2 linked regions of the Homo sapiens genome follow. The protein of the gene in region 1 interacts with the protein of each later gene in a pairwise test. Each region holds a gene or a part of one and is shown on either strand. Other genes may lie near its edges.

The links. Proteins that work in one complex are often made in the same cells at the same time.
Region 2: the proteins of SEC14L4 (region 1) and HAO2 interact in binary tests that used the Homo sapiens proteins (3 or more experiments, as listed by UniProt).

Annotation. Positions count from the first base shown.
Region 1 is NC_000022.11:30,502,686-30,509,867, forward strand, and holds the start of SEC14L4 (SEC14-like protein 4), read right to left. Parts: upstream 3,011-7,182; 5' UTR 2,927-3,010; coding exon 2,873-2,926; intron 1,068-2,872; coding exon 992-1,067; intron 1-991. UniProt on the Homo sapiens protein: Probable hydrophobic ligand-binding protein; may play a role in the transport of hydrophobic ligands like tocopherol, squalene and phospholipids.
Region 2 is NC_000001.11:119,364,580-119,371,787, reverse strand, and holds the start of HAO2 (2-Hydroxyacid oxidase 2), read right to left. Parts: upstream 3,004-7,208; 5' UTR 2,886-3,003; intron 2,843-2,885; exon of another isoform or gene 2,780-2,842; intron 1,705-2,779; exon of another isoform or gene 1,457-1,704; intron 1-1,456. UniProt on the Homo sapiens protein: Oxidase that catalyzes the oxidation of medium and long chain hydroxyacids such as 2-hydroxyhexadecanoate and 2-hydroxyoctanoate, to the correspondong 2-oxoacids.

The sequences.
Region 1 (7,182 bases):
GATTACAGGTGCTCGGCAGCTCACCCGGCTAATTTTTGTATTTTTTGTAGAGATGAGGTTTCGCCATGTTGCCCAGGCTGGTCTTGAACTCCTGAGCTCAAGAAATCTGCCTGCCTCAGCCTCCCAAAGCACTGGGACTATAAGTGTGAGCCATCGCATCTGGCTTGTTATTATTTTTTTAGACTGCTGCTGTAATTCCTAGAAGAAACTGCTTCTCTAGCATTCGCTAAATCCACTTCCTTAAGTGTTTGCTGGGCACCTGCTCAGTGCACTAGGGCACCTCGGTTCCTTTAGGGGACAACAGAGCCCTGTCCTCGGGGAACTGGAGGTACACCCAAAGGCAAGTACTGAAAACAGTGCTCTGCAACATCTGCCCCAAGGGCTGGCCAGGCCAGAGGCCTGAGGATGTCCTGGCTGTTAACTGTAACCTCACCTGGACTCTGTGCCCACCTGTTGCCTCATCCTTGCTTGACAGATGAAGAAACTGAGGCTCAGTGGGGTTTTGTGCTGTGCTCATACACAGGGGAGCTCAGATTCTAGTCAGAGCAGGCTGATTCCAGACCCTGTGTTTTTTGTTTTTTTGTTTTTTTTTTTTTGAGACGGAGCTTCACTCTTGATGCCCAGGCTGGAGTGCAATGGCGGGATCTCGGCTTACCGCAACCTCTGCCTCCCGGGTTCAAGCGATTCTCCTGCCTCAGCCTCCTGAGTAGCTGAGATTACAGGCATGTGCCACCAAGCCAGCTAATTTTGTATTTTTAGTAGAGACAGGGTTTCCCCATGTTGGTCAGGCTGGTCTCGAACTCCCGACCTCAGGTGATCTGCCTGCCTCGGCCTCCCAAAGTGCTGGGATTACAGGTGTGAGCCACCGGGCCCGGCAAGCCTGTGTTCTTTACTACCCTACAGCTCCATTCCCTCAAAGTCTCCCACTCCTCTCCTGAGACCCTCCTTCCTTCCCTCCCTTTCTGCGTCCCCTGACCCCTGCAAGCCTCACCTCGCAGCCAGCGCAGGAGGAAGTAGTCATCAGCATTGGGCAGTATGGGCAGCAGGTCCTGGAGGTTCTCCCGGAACTGAGCGGAGGAGGATCTGATGGTCGGCGGAGCTCTCATGACCTCGGGGGCCACCAACCCCGCCCCTAACCCTTCCCACATCATCCACCAGTCAACTCCACCAGAAGACCATGCAGGGTGCTGCCCTGAACGACTTTGCCATCTGAAAATAGGGCACCCTCCAGCCCAACATAGGAAAAAGAGTTGGGTCCTTCCCAAAATTTGGGAGTGCCCTACACACTGGACTCCCATTCTACATGTCTAAGGTGGGGCCCTGGCATCCTTATTTTTAATTTTTATTTTATTATTATTTTTATATTATTATTATTATTATTATTATTATTGAAACAGGATCTCACTCTATCGCCCAAGCTGGAGCGTAGTTGCGTGATCTTGGCTCACTGCAACCCGTGCCTCCCGGGTTCAATAGATCCTCCCAGCTCAGACTCCCAAGTAGCTGGGACCACAGGCACACAAGATGCCCAGCTAATTTTTGTACTTTTTGTAGAGATGGGATCTTGCTATGTTGCCCAGGCTGGTCTCAAACTCCTTGGCTCAAACAATCCACCCGCCTTAGTATCCCAAAGTGCTGGGATCACAGGCGTGAGCCACCATGCCCGACTGACAGCCTTATTTCTACAAGGATCCCTGGGAGAGTCTGATGCAGGCCAGCTAGGCGGTTTTAGGAATGTTGTCCCTGATACTGCATCTTGAGGGTTTAGATTTAGAGGCAAGTTACCAAACCTCTCTAAGCCTCAGTTTCCTTATCTCTGAAATGGGGATAAAAATAAACTTGTACCAATCAAAGGAGTCTGTGCACGTAAAACACTTAGCAGGCTTGGCTCCGAGCAGGTGTCAGATATATGTGAGCACTCAGCCAGCGTGGACTGCCTGATGCCCCGGACAATGGAGGCTTTGTGGAAAAAAAACAGAGGCAGAGGTCAACAGACAGGGGCTGAAAGAGAAGCCAGGAATGCCTTATCAGGGCATCTGTTGCGTCTGAGAGAGAGGAGATCTCACTTCCCTGGGGACCAACAGAGCTGAAGGCAAAGGCTGGGTTTGAAGGTGAATCTGTGAATCCAAATTTGGGATTAGAAATATGAGGCCGGGCGCAGTGGCTCACACCTGTAATCCCAGCACTTTGGGAGGCCAAGGCGGATGGATCACAAGGTCAGGAGTTCGAGACCAGCCTGTCCAAGAGACCTGCCTGGCCAATATGGTGAAACCCCGTCTCTACTAAAAATACAAAAATTAGTCGGGTGTGGTGGCGGGCACCTGTAGCCCCAGCTACTTGGGAGGCTGAGGCAGGAGAATCGCTTGAACTCAGGAGGTGGAGGTTGCAGTGAACCGAGATTGCGCCATTACACTCCAGCCTGGACGACAGAGCAAGACTCCATCTCAAAAAAAAAAAAAAAAAAGATTACAGAGAAGCTTGGGCCCTAAGAACAAATCACAAAGAGAAGCCAAACAAACAAATGTTGCAACCTGGACATGAAAAGCAGTCTGTCTACCCAAGGCTGCCCCCGCAGCCGGATGGCAGCGCCACTCCCTCCCCCACAACCGGGGAACAAGGACCAGGGCCGGGTGGTGGAGAGCACGCAAGGTCAGAAGACTGGATTCGGCTCCTGGTCACGCAGAGATGGGCCCCTGTCCCGCGTGCTGCACGTAGCCGCCTCAACAACCGCACGCTGGACCAGAGGGCAGAACAGAGGCGCTCTCTCCAGGCTCGGTGTTCCAGTCTGTACCATGGGGGCTCCAGCCGGGTTGGGCAGTGCCAGGCTGCTCAGGGCCCCTCCTCAAGCCTCCCAGCCCGCGATGCTCCTCACCCTGGCCAGCGCTTCCTGCTGCTGGGGGCTCAGGTCCCCGACTCGGCTGCTCATGGTGCCCGCGGGCGCAGAAAGGCTCAGGGCGCAGGTCCGCCCGCCCGCCGCCGCCTGGCCTTGTATCCGCTGCCGCCTGGTTGTGCCTCCTGGGCCAGATGTTGGTCCCGCCCCGACGGGAGAGGCACTGGGCCTGCCCCGCCCCGCCCAGTTCTCTCCTCCTCTCCAGGATTTTTTGCTGCGGTCACCAAGCGCACCCTACTTGGGACAGGGAGGTGACCTGCCGGGAGAGTGGCCTGGGGCAGCTGGAGGCAGCCACCTCCAGGCCTCCTTACTGCGGGGGCTCCCGCCTGTTCGCAGGTGGCAGGAAAGGGAATACACTGAGATCCTCTTTCCAGCAAAATGGAGGAAATTTTTTTTTAAATGTTTTTTTTTTTTTGGGCCAGGCGCGGTGGCTCACGCCTGTAATCCCAGCACTTTGGGAGGCCGAGGCGGGCGGATCACGAGGTCAGGAGGAGATCGAGACCATCCTGGCTAACATGGTGAAAACCCGTCTCTACTGAAAATACAAAAAATTAGCTGGGCGTGGTGGCGGGCGCCTGTAGTCCCAGCTACTCGGGAGGCTGAGGCAGGAGAATGGCGTGAACCCGGGAAGCGGAGCTTGCAGTGAGCCGAGATCGCGCCACTGCACTCCAGCCTGGGTGACAGAGTGAGACTCCGTCTCAAAAAAAAAAAAAATTTTTTTTTTCTTTTTCTTATTTTGAATAAAATAGAGACCGGGTTTTGCTATGCTGACCAGGCTGGTCTGGACCTCCTGGCCTCAAGCAATCCTCCAACCTCCGCCACCCAAAGTGCTGGGATTAGGGATGTGAACCACCATACCTGGCCAACATGGAGGAATTTTTAATAAACCTGGCTCAACCCTCTAGGACCCCCAGGGCTTTTGTCTAATGACCCCCAAGCTCCTTCCCCTGACCTTGAACACAGCCTGGGACCTGTCAGTGCTCACTGACTGATAGGACAGCCTCATGTGCAAAATGGTTCCTGCCCTCAAGATGGTTGGAAGGATAAGAGGACGCACCCTGGGTCAGCAGAATGTCTGGCGTTGCCTGCTCAGTAAGTGCTGGCTGGTAGGAATATATTTCAGAATTGTGTTATTACTGAGGCTGTCACCAGAGCTGGGAGCTGCAGGGGTGGAGATCCTAGGGTGTCCCAAGTGCGGAGCTCCTGGGTGAGAGCCACAGTCTGAAGGTGGAGGCATGCAAGGTGCCAGCCGTGGACCAATGGAAGCCCTGGGCAGAGTGACAGAGTGGGCGGAGAGCCAAAAGGCCACTCTGGCTGACACAAGAGAGCCAGGCGGAGATCACTAGGAAAAGCAAGAAAAAAGTTCAGCCAGGCGCGGTGGCTCATGCTTGCAATCCTGGCACCTGGCACTTTGGGAGGCCAAGGCAGGCGGATCACTTGAGGTCAGGAGTTTGAGACCATCCTGGCCAACATGGTGAAACCCTGTCTCTACTAAAAATACAAAAATTAGCTGGGTGTGGTCGTCCACGCCTGTAGTTCCAGCTACTCAGGAGGCTGAGGCACAAGAATTGCTTGAACCTGGGAGGTTGAGGGTGCAATGAGCCAAGATGGCACCACTGCATTCCAGCCTGGGCGACAGAGCCAGATTCTGTCTCAAAAAAAGAAAACAGAAGTTGGCTGGGTGTGAATTTTCAAGAGAGGAGTAGAGGGGACGTGAAGATGAAGGAGAGAGTAAAACAGGCCACAAGACCCTGTTCCCTCTGTCCTCCCATGGAATCAAACCAAGCTCTAGTCCCGAAAGGACTAACCCAGTGGCCGTGAGCCACAGAGGCTTTTGAGCCCAGACAACGTGGCTTGTCATAACAAGCATAGAGACATGCTGTAATTGTAAAATACAAACCAAGTTTTGATGGCTTAGTACCAGAAAAAGTAAAATGTTTCATTAACTAATTTTATTTATTTATGTACTGAGACAGCATCTCACTCTGTCACCCAGGTTGGAGTGCAGTGGTGCAATCATGGCTCACTGCAGCCTTGACCTCACGGGCTCAAGTGATCCTCCCACCTCAGCCTCCTGAGTAGCTGGGACTACATTCTCACCCCACCACACCCGGCTAATTTATTTTTATTTTTATTTTTATTTTTTTATAGACACAGGGTTTTGCTATGTTAGCCAGGCTGGTCTCAAACTCCTGAGCTCAAGCCATCCATCTGCTTCAGCCTCCCAAATTGCTGGTATTACAAGCGTGTGCCACTGCTCCTAGCCTCATTAATTAATTTTATATAAATGATTATATATTAAGTGATATTTTTGAATATAATAGGACAATAAAATATGTTATTAATATTACTTTCACCTGTTTCTTTTGATGTTTTAATAATTTTGAATTATTTATAATGATAATTTTTTTTCTTTTTTTAAGACAGGGTCTCAATGTGTCACCCAGGCTGGAGTGCAGTGGCAAAATCTCCGCTCACTGCAAGCTCCACCGCCCCCCACCCCTGAAGCTCAAGCAGTGCTCCCACCTCAGCCTCCCCAGTAGCAGGGACTGCAGATGTGCATCTCCACATCCGGCTAATTTTTGTATTTTTTTGAAGAAAAATACAAAACATGGTTTTGCCATGCTGCCTAGGCTGGTCTCAAACTCCCGAGCTCAAGCGATCCTCCCGCCTCAGCCTCCCAAAGTCCTGGGATTATAGGCATGAGCCACAGTGCCCAGCTAAATTGTTATTTTTTAGGACAGTTTTAAGTTCACATCAAAACTGGGCAGAAAGTACAGAGTTCCCACATATCTGCTGTCCCCATACACACACAACCTCTGGTTCCAGAGATATCCATTTGCTGAAATTGATGAGCCTACACTGACACGCTAATATCACCCAAAGTTCCTAGTTTACATTAGGGCTCATTCTTGGTGTTGGATATTCTATGGGTTTTGACAAATGTATAATGACATGTGTCCACCATTGTGGTATCACGCAGAATAGTTTCACTGCCCTAAAAATCCTCTGTGCTCCTACCTATCCTTTTTACTTAAAAAAAAAAAAAATGTAGCCACTGGGGCTGGGCGTGGTGGCTCACGTCTGTAATCCCAGCACTTTGGGAGGCTAAGGCGGGTGGATCACCTGAGGTCAGGAGTTTGAGACCAGCCTGGCCAACACGGCGAAACCCTGTCTCTACTAAAACTACAAAGATTACCTGGGCATGGTGGTGCACGTCTGTAATCCCAGCTACTCGGGAGGCTGAGGTAGGAGAATCACTGAACCCGGGAGGCGGAGGTTCCGGTGATCTGAGATTGCGCCATCACATTCTAGCCTGGGAGACAGAGCAAGACTCCATCTCAAAAAAAAAAAAGTAGCCACTGGAAAGATTTAAAATTACACGTATGGGCTGGGCATGGTGGCTCACACCTGTAATCCCAGCACTTTGAGAGGCTGAGGTGGGCGGATCGCTTGAGCCCAGCAGTTTGAGACCAGCCTGGGTAACATAGTAAAACCCCGTCTCTACTAAAAACACAAAAATTTGCCAGGCATGATGCTGTGCGCATGTAATCCCAGCTACTCAGGAGGCTGAGACAGGAGAATCACTTGAACCCAGGAGGCAGAGACGGGGGTTGCAGTGAGCTGAGATCATGCCACTGCACTCCAGCCTGGGTGACAGAGTGAGATTCGGTCTCAAAAAATAATAATAATAATAAATAAAATAAAATTACATTTATGGATCACATTTATGACTTGCATTATATTTAATTTGAACATTGTTTGCCCTATAGAGATTTAAAATATGTTTTTAGAAAAAGAAAGTAAATCATAAAAAATGCTAAAAGAAAGTAAAAGTGACACCACATCTCTGGAAGGGCATGGTCTGTGTTTAAAAACAATGACAGAATCACAAAGGGAAAATGAATTGATTTGACTACAAAATACAAAAATCTATTAAACAAGAAACAGAATTAAGACATTTATCAGAGTCGGGCGCTGTGGCTCACGCTTGTAATCCCAAACTTTGGGAGACTGAGGCGGGCGGATCAGGAGATCAGGAGTTCAAGACCAGCCTGGCCAACACAGTGAAACCCCGTCTCTACGAAAAATACAAAAATCAGCTGCGCATGGTGGTAGGTGCCTATAATCCCAGCTACTCGGGAGGCTGAGACAGGAGAATCACTTGAACCTGGGAGGCAGAGGTTGCAGTGAGCTGAGATCATGCCACTGCACTCCAGCCTGGACGACAGAGCTAGACTCCATCTCAAAAAAAAAAAAAAAAAGACATTTGTCAGTATTTGCTGATGGAA
Region 2 (7,208 bases), on another chromosome or scaffold:
TTCAAGTACTCCATGATGTACCATGCACTGTGTAAATTGCTTTACATGCATGACTGTTTTAATCCTTGTGGAAATGTTCAACACAAATATTATCATCCCCATTTCACGGGTGAGAAACCTGAAGTTCAAGAGGTTAAAATACTTTGTTCAATATTACATATCTAGTAATGTGTCACGATTCCAGTGGCCTGGCTCTTAAGCACTATAGAAAGAAGAAAATGGGCACAGCCAAGTGTGGTTTATGGAATGACAGAGTTGGCACGGACCTTAGAGGATTAAAATGTCATGGACATATGCAACTTTGCTTTCTTCCCTCAAAAAATCATAACTCAATCAGAAAGTTAAAAAAAATCTTAATTATTCAGCCAATCACTAAAAAATAACTTCTTATGTTTAAATCTGTCTTAACAGTCTACAGAGCACTCTTCTATACGTTATTCCATTTGGTGCTTACAACAATCCAGTGGGCAATCAGAGAGTGTATGTATGAGCCCCATGTTATAGATAAAAACATTAAAGCTCGGATAATTCACGTGAGTATCCAAGCTAATGCAACAGAAATGGCAAAGCCTGACCTGGAATCCTTCTGACTTGTTTCCAATGTCTTTGAGCCAGTATGGAGTGTTACTGGTATGGGGGAGACATTTAAGTCTCTGTTCTGAATGGTCAGAGAGTTGCATAAAATGAGCTTGGTCAATTCCCACAAAATCCAGGCCATTGGGAAAGGAGTTCTATGTGACACTGTGAGATCACTGCACCTGCCTCTTCATCTGCTCAACAAGGATAGAATGTGCAAAACAGACATCAGAATTCACACAAAGCTCCAAAACAGGCTCTGACGTCTACTCTGTCCACTAGTGACTTCAGGTCTTGCAGGTGTACCTATATCTCACAGTGGCAATCACTGGGTTGTAGCAGGAGAGAGAGGAGAAAAGGCAGAGCAGTTGGGGATGGAAGAGCCCAGCTATGGAGTGCAGTTTTTTCTCTCTTTGCCTTCCTCCTGGCTTCTCTGTCTACGGCAACTACCCAGACTGTGTTTCTGAAGGCCATTGCTTTCCACCGATCAACTGTGCCCAAGGAACTAATGACTGAGGGAGTCAGTGGAGTAGAGAAGACAGACTATATTATAAGCTTTGGCACTTGGCAAACATAGGCTGAAATCTCAGCTCTACTACTGGCTCACCACGGTTCTGTGCAAAATTTATTTGTTAAAGGAGAATATTAACATCCATCCCATAGGGCTGCCATGAGGACTAAGCAGTATGGCCCCTTTGAAATTTCTAGAACAGTGCCTTGTATAGACTAGATTGTTAATAAAGGCAGCTCCATGTTCATTATTCCTCCTGTTGATGACATGTGTGATTTCATCTGAGGCTCTGGAAGTGGAAAGCTGCTTCAGGATTTGAGTATTTCTGTCATAGTATAATTTAAACCCTCTGTCAGATTTACTCATTAGTTTATCCAAGAAGGTTTATTGACACACACTCTCAGCCAGGGTGGCGGAGGCATATACTGCTCCCCACATGCTTAACATTTCGCTGTTGCTTAAATACAGGCATGGCTCTGTGACTAGTTCTTCTGGCCAATGGCCTGGGAGTGGGAATAGCAGGTGTGAATTCTAGGCCAAGGATTGAAGAGCTGGTATGTGACCCTCCAGCTTTGTTTCCTCCTCTACAGCGATCCTCCATCCTCAAGAAGGCAAAGCTGTAAGAGAAAGGCCACTTGGATTCCCAAAACGCCATTTGGAAAAGGGTAGCCCTGGAGATCAGCTGATATTGTGTAAGGAAGAAATAAATATTTATGTGTTATCTCACTAAGTTGTTAAGGTTTATTCTTTACTATAACATAGCCTGATTTAACATAATATATCAAAGTATTATGCTAAACACTAGAGATATGGGGGGGGACCTTTATCACATCAGTTTCTGCTCTCAAGAAGCTTACAGTCGAAGAAGACAGACTTTCATAGCTCATCATTTGATAGCTGATACGATTTAGAGTACAACAGGAGTCCCTTTGAGGGGAGAGTTACCTGGGAATTTGGCAATATTCCCATTACCTCTCAAATGATATACCACAAGTGATGTTCCACTCAATCTATTCTAGACAAGCTCCAATTCTCATCTATCTTTAAATTAGGTTATTACTGTCTATCTCATAGGGATCTTGTGAGAATTGAAGGATCTTGTAAAATGCAGAATATAGTAGTAGTTAAGAATAAAAGTTTGCGGATTTTGCTTCCTGCTAATGGACGCTTTATTCTGTTCCATTGATCTGTTATCTATCTTTATACCAGTACCTCCCTGTCTTCATTAGCGTTCTTGGCAGTTCTCCGCAGGTTGATCTGTAGATTCAACTTAACACAATCAGAGGCTCTTCATTAGTGGGACTTTGTAACCCATTTGTTCCAAATAAGCTTATTGCTCAAAGGAACTACATTGTTTGAGACACATTAACTTCTTTACTTTTTTAGGAGCATAGCCATGTCACTGTTTTCTTTTGCTTGTGGCCGGGAAGCAGTGGTCAGAATACTAAATATATCCCTGAAGGCAATAGCAATACCTTTTAGGTTTTCAGAACGCTGTCAAGTGAAAACATTTTAACCCATTTTTCCTCCTATGGACACCCACGAATATTCCACCATACAATTCTAAGACTCAACTTCCTAGACTTAACCTTCTCTGTCTGTATCCTTTTTGAAACCAAATCTTCCTTTGCCCATGCCCTCTGAGTTCCCTAACACCTGTCTCCCTAGGACCATCTTTGCCAAGGTCCTTGCCTTGCAAACTCATAGTTGGCTTCCACGATATCTTCCATTCCCATCCTATCTGGCACTTCATCACCCTTCTCAGTTCCAAGCACACAGAACACACTCAATGACAAACCTTATTCTAATGTCTTCCAGTCCTCAGGGAAAGAAGTGTTTAGACGCAGCCACTCAAAGCCTGGCTCACTGCCGGAGGTGTTAGGAAACACACCACATCACTACCCACAGTTCAGGCTAAAGAAGAGGCTGAAGTCTCAAAGTTAATCTTTTAATGAAAACATCCAGCTTAGCAGTAAATAAGCAACTAGGCCAGAGCAAGGTTGACTTTGAAAGAATTTTGCTGACTTTGCAAATTTACTTCAAAATTAAGTGAAGTTTATTACAAAATTAAACTTCAAAGTGAAGTTGTAATTTCCTACCTGAAATCACCCATTCCCTACCTCTAAATTCAAACTTGATGTTGTCCTCTGCTCATCACAGATTGTTAGAGGTAGGGAGTGGATGATTTCAGGTAGGAAATTACAAAAGTCCCCGGGTTGGAGGAGGGGCTTTTTGTGGTGATGGGGTTGGGGTGGGAGAAGAGCAAGCACAGCCTGGGAGCCCATGGGCAGGACAGCAGTGGGGACCCAGGCCAGGACGGTCCGAGCTTTGGGGATTTTGGAGGGTGCATAGTGTAGAGCCCTCCCTGCCCACAGAACTGTTCTGGGGAAGTAATTATGTCTAGATTAATATGGGAGTCAGGGAGAACCAGTGAAATTTTTGAGTGGAAAATTATTCAGGAATGTAGAAGAAATGCTAGGAAAAGCAAACTTAAAAGTACATGGAAAAATAGAATTAATTTCTCCAGAAGAGTTCTGTAGGGGTCCCAGAAAGGTCACTAATTTGTCCAGGTCTGTTCGTCTCCACTCCTCCCCCAGCTCTTGCCACTGCTCCTTAGTATTGCCACAGCTCACGTGTGTGATGCGCTTACGACGTGCCAGACACACTACACGCATTACTTCATTTGATCTTCACGGAAGGTCAATCTTTTCAAGATTGTCTCTTTTTCAGAAGAGAAAATGAGATTAACGAACATGCCCAAAGCCTTTCAGCAGTAAAGAGCAGAATTGGGATTTGAACCTAGCCTGTAGCCAACACACGGAGCAGAGGAGGCCGAAATCCTGAGCTGTACCGATGACCATAGCAGTGGGGTTTGCCTTTCCTTTAGAACCTGTAGTTAGAGAGCAAAATGATGAATTTACCACTGACTTGTCATACCATCTCCACTCAAGGCTCATTGGCTATTTATTTGGAGGGTAATCCCTACCTGCTATCTAGCCACTAGAGGACAGTATTACCTCAAAAATGCTTTCAAAAGTAGCCAAAATCTGGGTTCTGGAAATTTCTTTTCCATAGCAATTTTCACAATCTCCATAATCAGCCTCTAGGCCATGTCCTCGGTCAGCTCTCACAACACCTGGCCTGCTCACAGTCCCCTGATCCAGACCCTCCCTTGCTGTTTTCCAGACTCCGACTCTGTCTCTCCCTTCCAGAAGGAAGCCTGGTGATGAGCACACACTGGAACATGGTGCTCAAGCTCCAAACTGCAGCCACTCACTCACTAACATCCACATGTTACTTAAATTCTCTGTGCCTCAGTTTCCTCATAATACCTCCCACACTGTAATGAGAAGTAAGTGAGTTAATACTTAAAAGATGCTGGCAGTAGATAGAAAGAACAGTAGAGCTTCTCATGAGAGATTCTCAAGTTTGAAATAATGACCTTCTTGGAGACCTTTTAAATCTGATGATTGCACTGAGTTAAAGAACATCATCTCTACAAGGTAACACACTCTAATATCAGCCTCTAATGTTTGCACCTAAGTGAACTAATCTCAAATAGGGGATATAGGGCCACAGGCAGAGCTATTTGAGGCAGCATTTTTGCAGCACCTCTTGAATTCCAGAGAATGGGTCCATGGATAAGACAGACCAGCTTTGGACCCACCAGCAGGCTTGGAGAATGTTTCAGGATGAGGTTATGAAAAGATATTGGTTTTATTCAGGTGGTCATAGGGTACCCATTGAGCAATATGCCTGCTTATTTTGGATGAAGAGAAATGTCGGGTCATTCTTGAGCTGTCATGACCTAGTCTCTTAGAAAGCAAATGTAGTTTCACAGTAGAATAGAATGCCAAAATTCTTCTTAATGGAGGGGATTAAAAACATGCTAAGTCCTCCTGATCACTGTGGTCCTGTCCTAATCCAGCCATCTATTTTTCCTGAGGTAATTCTGGAAGTCAGGATGAGCCCAGGACTTTGCAGTCTGTGCTCAAGCCCATCAGGGTTAAAGATGAACACTTTGGTGCTGTGGTCAGGTTAATATTAGGTTGGTGCAAAAGTAACCGTGGTTTTGCTATTGAAAGTAATTAATGCAAACTTGGGTCATTGCAAACTGAAGCCAAACCAGTCATAGATGGCTAAGTCAAACTAAAGACAGTTTGCGTATTTCTGCAGCCACCAAGCCCCTTATAGGCTGTGAACCTCTTTGTAATGGCTACCCGGTGGATGGGGGCAGCTCTGCAGAGTCAGTTACTGGAAGAGATGGGAAGAAAACCTGAAAGAGAGCCTGCTGAAGACCTTAGTCCAAGGCCAATGACTTCTGTCATAGGGCTGCATTGTTTGTGTTCGCTTTATAGGGTCTAAAGTAGGAAGGAAGTGTGTCCCTCTAGCTGCTGAGCTTGCTACATAGATCAGATCTGACTGGAGGAAGCGGGGTTTCTGGATGTGAAGATGAGTTAGGTAGCTAGAGCTGGGATTGTACACCTTCCCAAGATCATGGAGAAAGTCAGTTGCTGGGCACAGGAAAAACAATCAGGATTTCAGAATCTGCTGGGTATCCGGGGTTGAGGACATGGGTGCCTATGTGTGAAATGCTGTGGGATCCACTGTCAACAGCCTGTTGATGTGAGAGTCCCTGGCATCTTGGAGACAGTGTGTATTCTTCAAGGCATTTATGTTGATCCAGGATCAAACACAACTTACTGTGAGTTAGGTGGCTTCAGCAGGAGAGAAAGTTTCTTCTACTCAGAAAGCAACAATGTGCTCCCTAAAGTCACCTAATATTGTAACATCCTCTGTGCTCAGACACTCAGCACCCTGTGCCGAGCAATGATAAGGCATGTAAACGGCCTAGCATTGCCCTTAGTACCAATAAATGCTCAAGAAATGGTTGCATTATTTTCAATAATAGTAATTAATAACACTTACAGAGCATTTACTATGTGCCAAGCAGTGTATTAAGGGTTTAGCAGTTCTTCACTCATTAGGTGGGGATCATTTTTATCTCTGTTTTACAGATATGGAGGTGGAGGCCAGGCATTCCGGAATTCAAAGCCAGGCATTCTGGCCCCAGAGTCCACATTTAACTATTGTGCTTTTAATTAATACTGCAAAGAGTTGCCAATAGGAGACCAGAGGAGGGCAAGATGGCTTCTGGCTAGGGTGACCAGGGAACACTGCCAGAATGACAGATATTTCAGCTGGCCCTTTCACATAAATTGAACTATATTTTCTTCTACTAGCCCTAGTCCTTGGGTCTGAAACTGAGCCCACAGGTCCTGCTGTTACATGAACTGGGGTATGGGTATATAGCCAAGGCCTCAGGCCTGCTGAACCAAGAGTTTATTCAGCAGGGAGTGGGAAGCCAGTAGTTAAGCTGGTAAGGAACTCTTCAAGACTCTCTGAGTCTTCAAGAAAGTTCTAACAGCCCACTGGGGGACTTTTGCCTCTGCCTACATCAAAACACATTTTTTAAAAAGCTTCTGCTTTGTACTTGCTGTTCCTTCATTCTGGAACATACTAATCATTCCTCATCCTTAGGACTCAGTTGATGTGTTTCTCCATCCATGAAACCTTCCTCAGTGCCACTGGGCAGAGCTGGCTGTGTGTGTGTGTGTGTGTGTGTGTGTGTGTGTGAGAGAGAGAGAGAGAGAGAGAGAGAGAGAGGGAGAAACTTGTCACACGGTATTGCGGCTTGTCATTACAGTGTGGCTTTTTCAGGACTTTGAGTTCCTTGAGGCCAGGAGCCATGTTGTATTCATTCTTGAATCCCACTGCCCGGCCCAGAGCCTGGTACATAGTAGGTGCATGATGATTGTTTATTGTGGAATTAGAGAACAGATTTTAAAACTTGAATTCTCAAAGAAGGAGGGGCAGGATGCAGTCAGCATTACTCATTCCCATCTCTGCCCAGTCTCACCCTGCTCTCTCTGCTTTCTACCATGGTCTCCTCTGGAAGGGTATGGCCAACTTAATGCAAAGGTCAGGGCATCTTTGGTTCTTGGACTGATGTTTACATTTTTGAACTCTCAAGGACGTTGACATATCCAGCAGCTGAACTCCAAGTGAGCACACCAGCTTATGTTGGTACAATCAGCTTCACTGGGGGTAGCTTTATTAT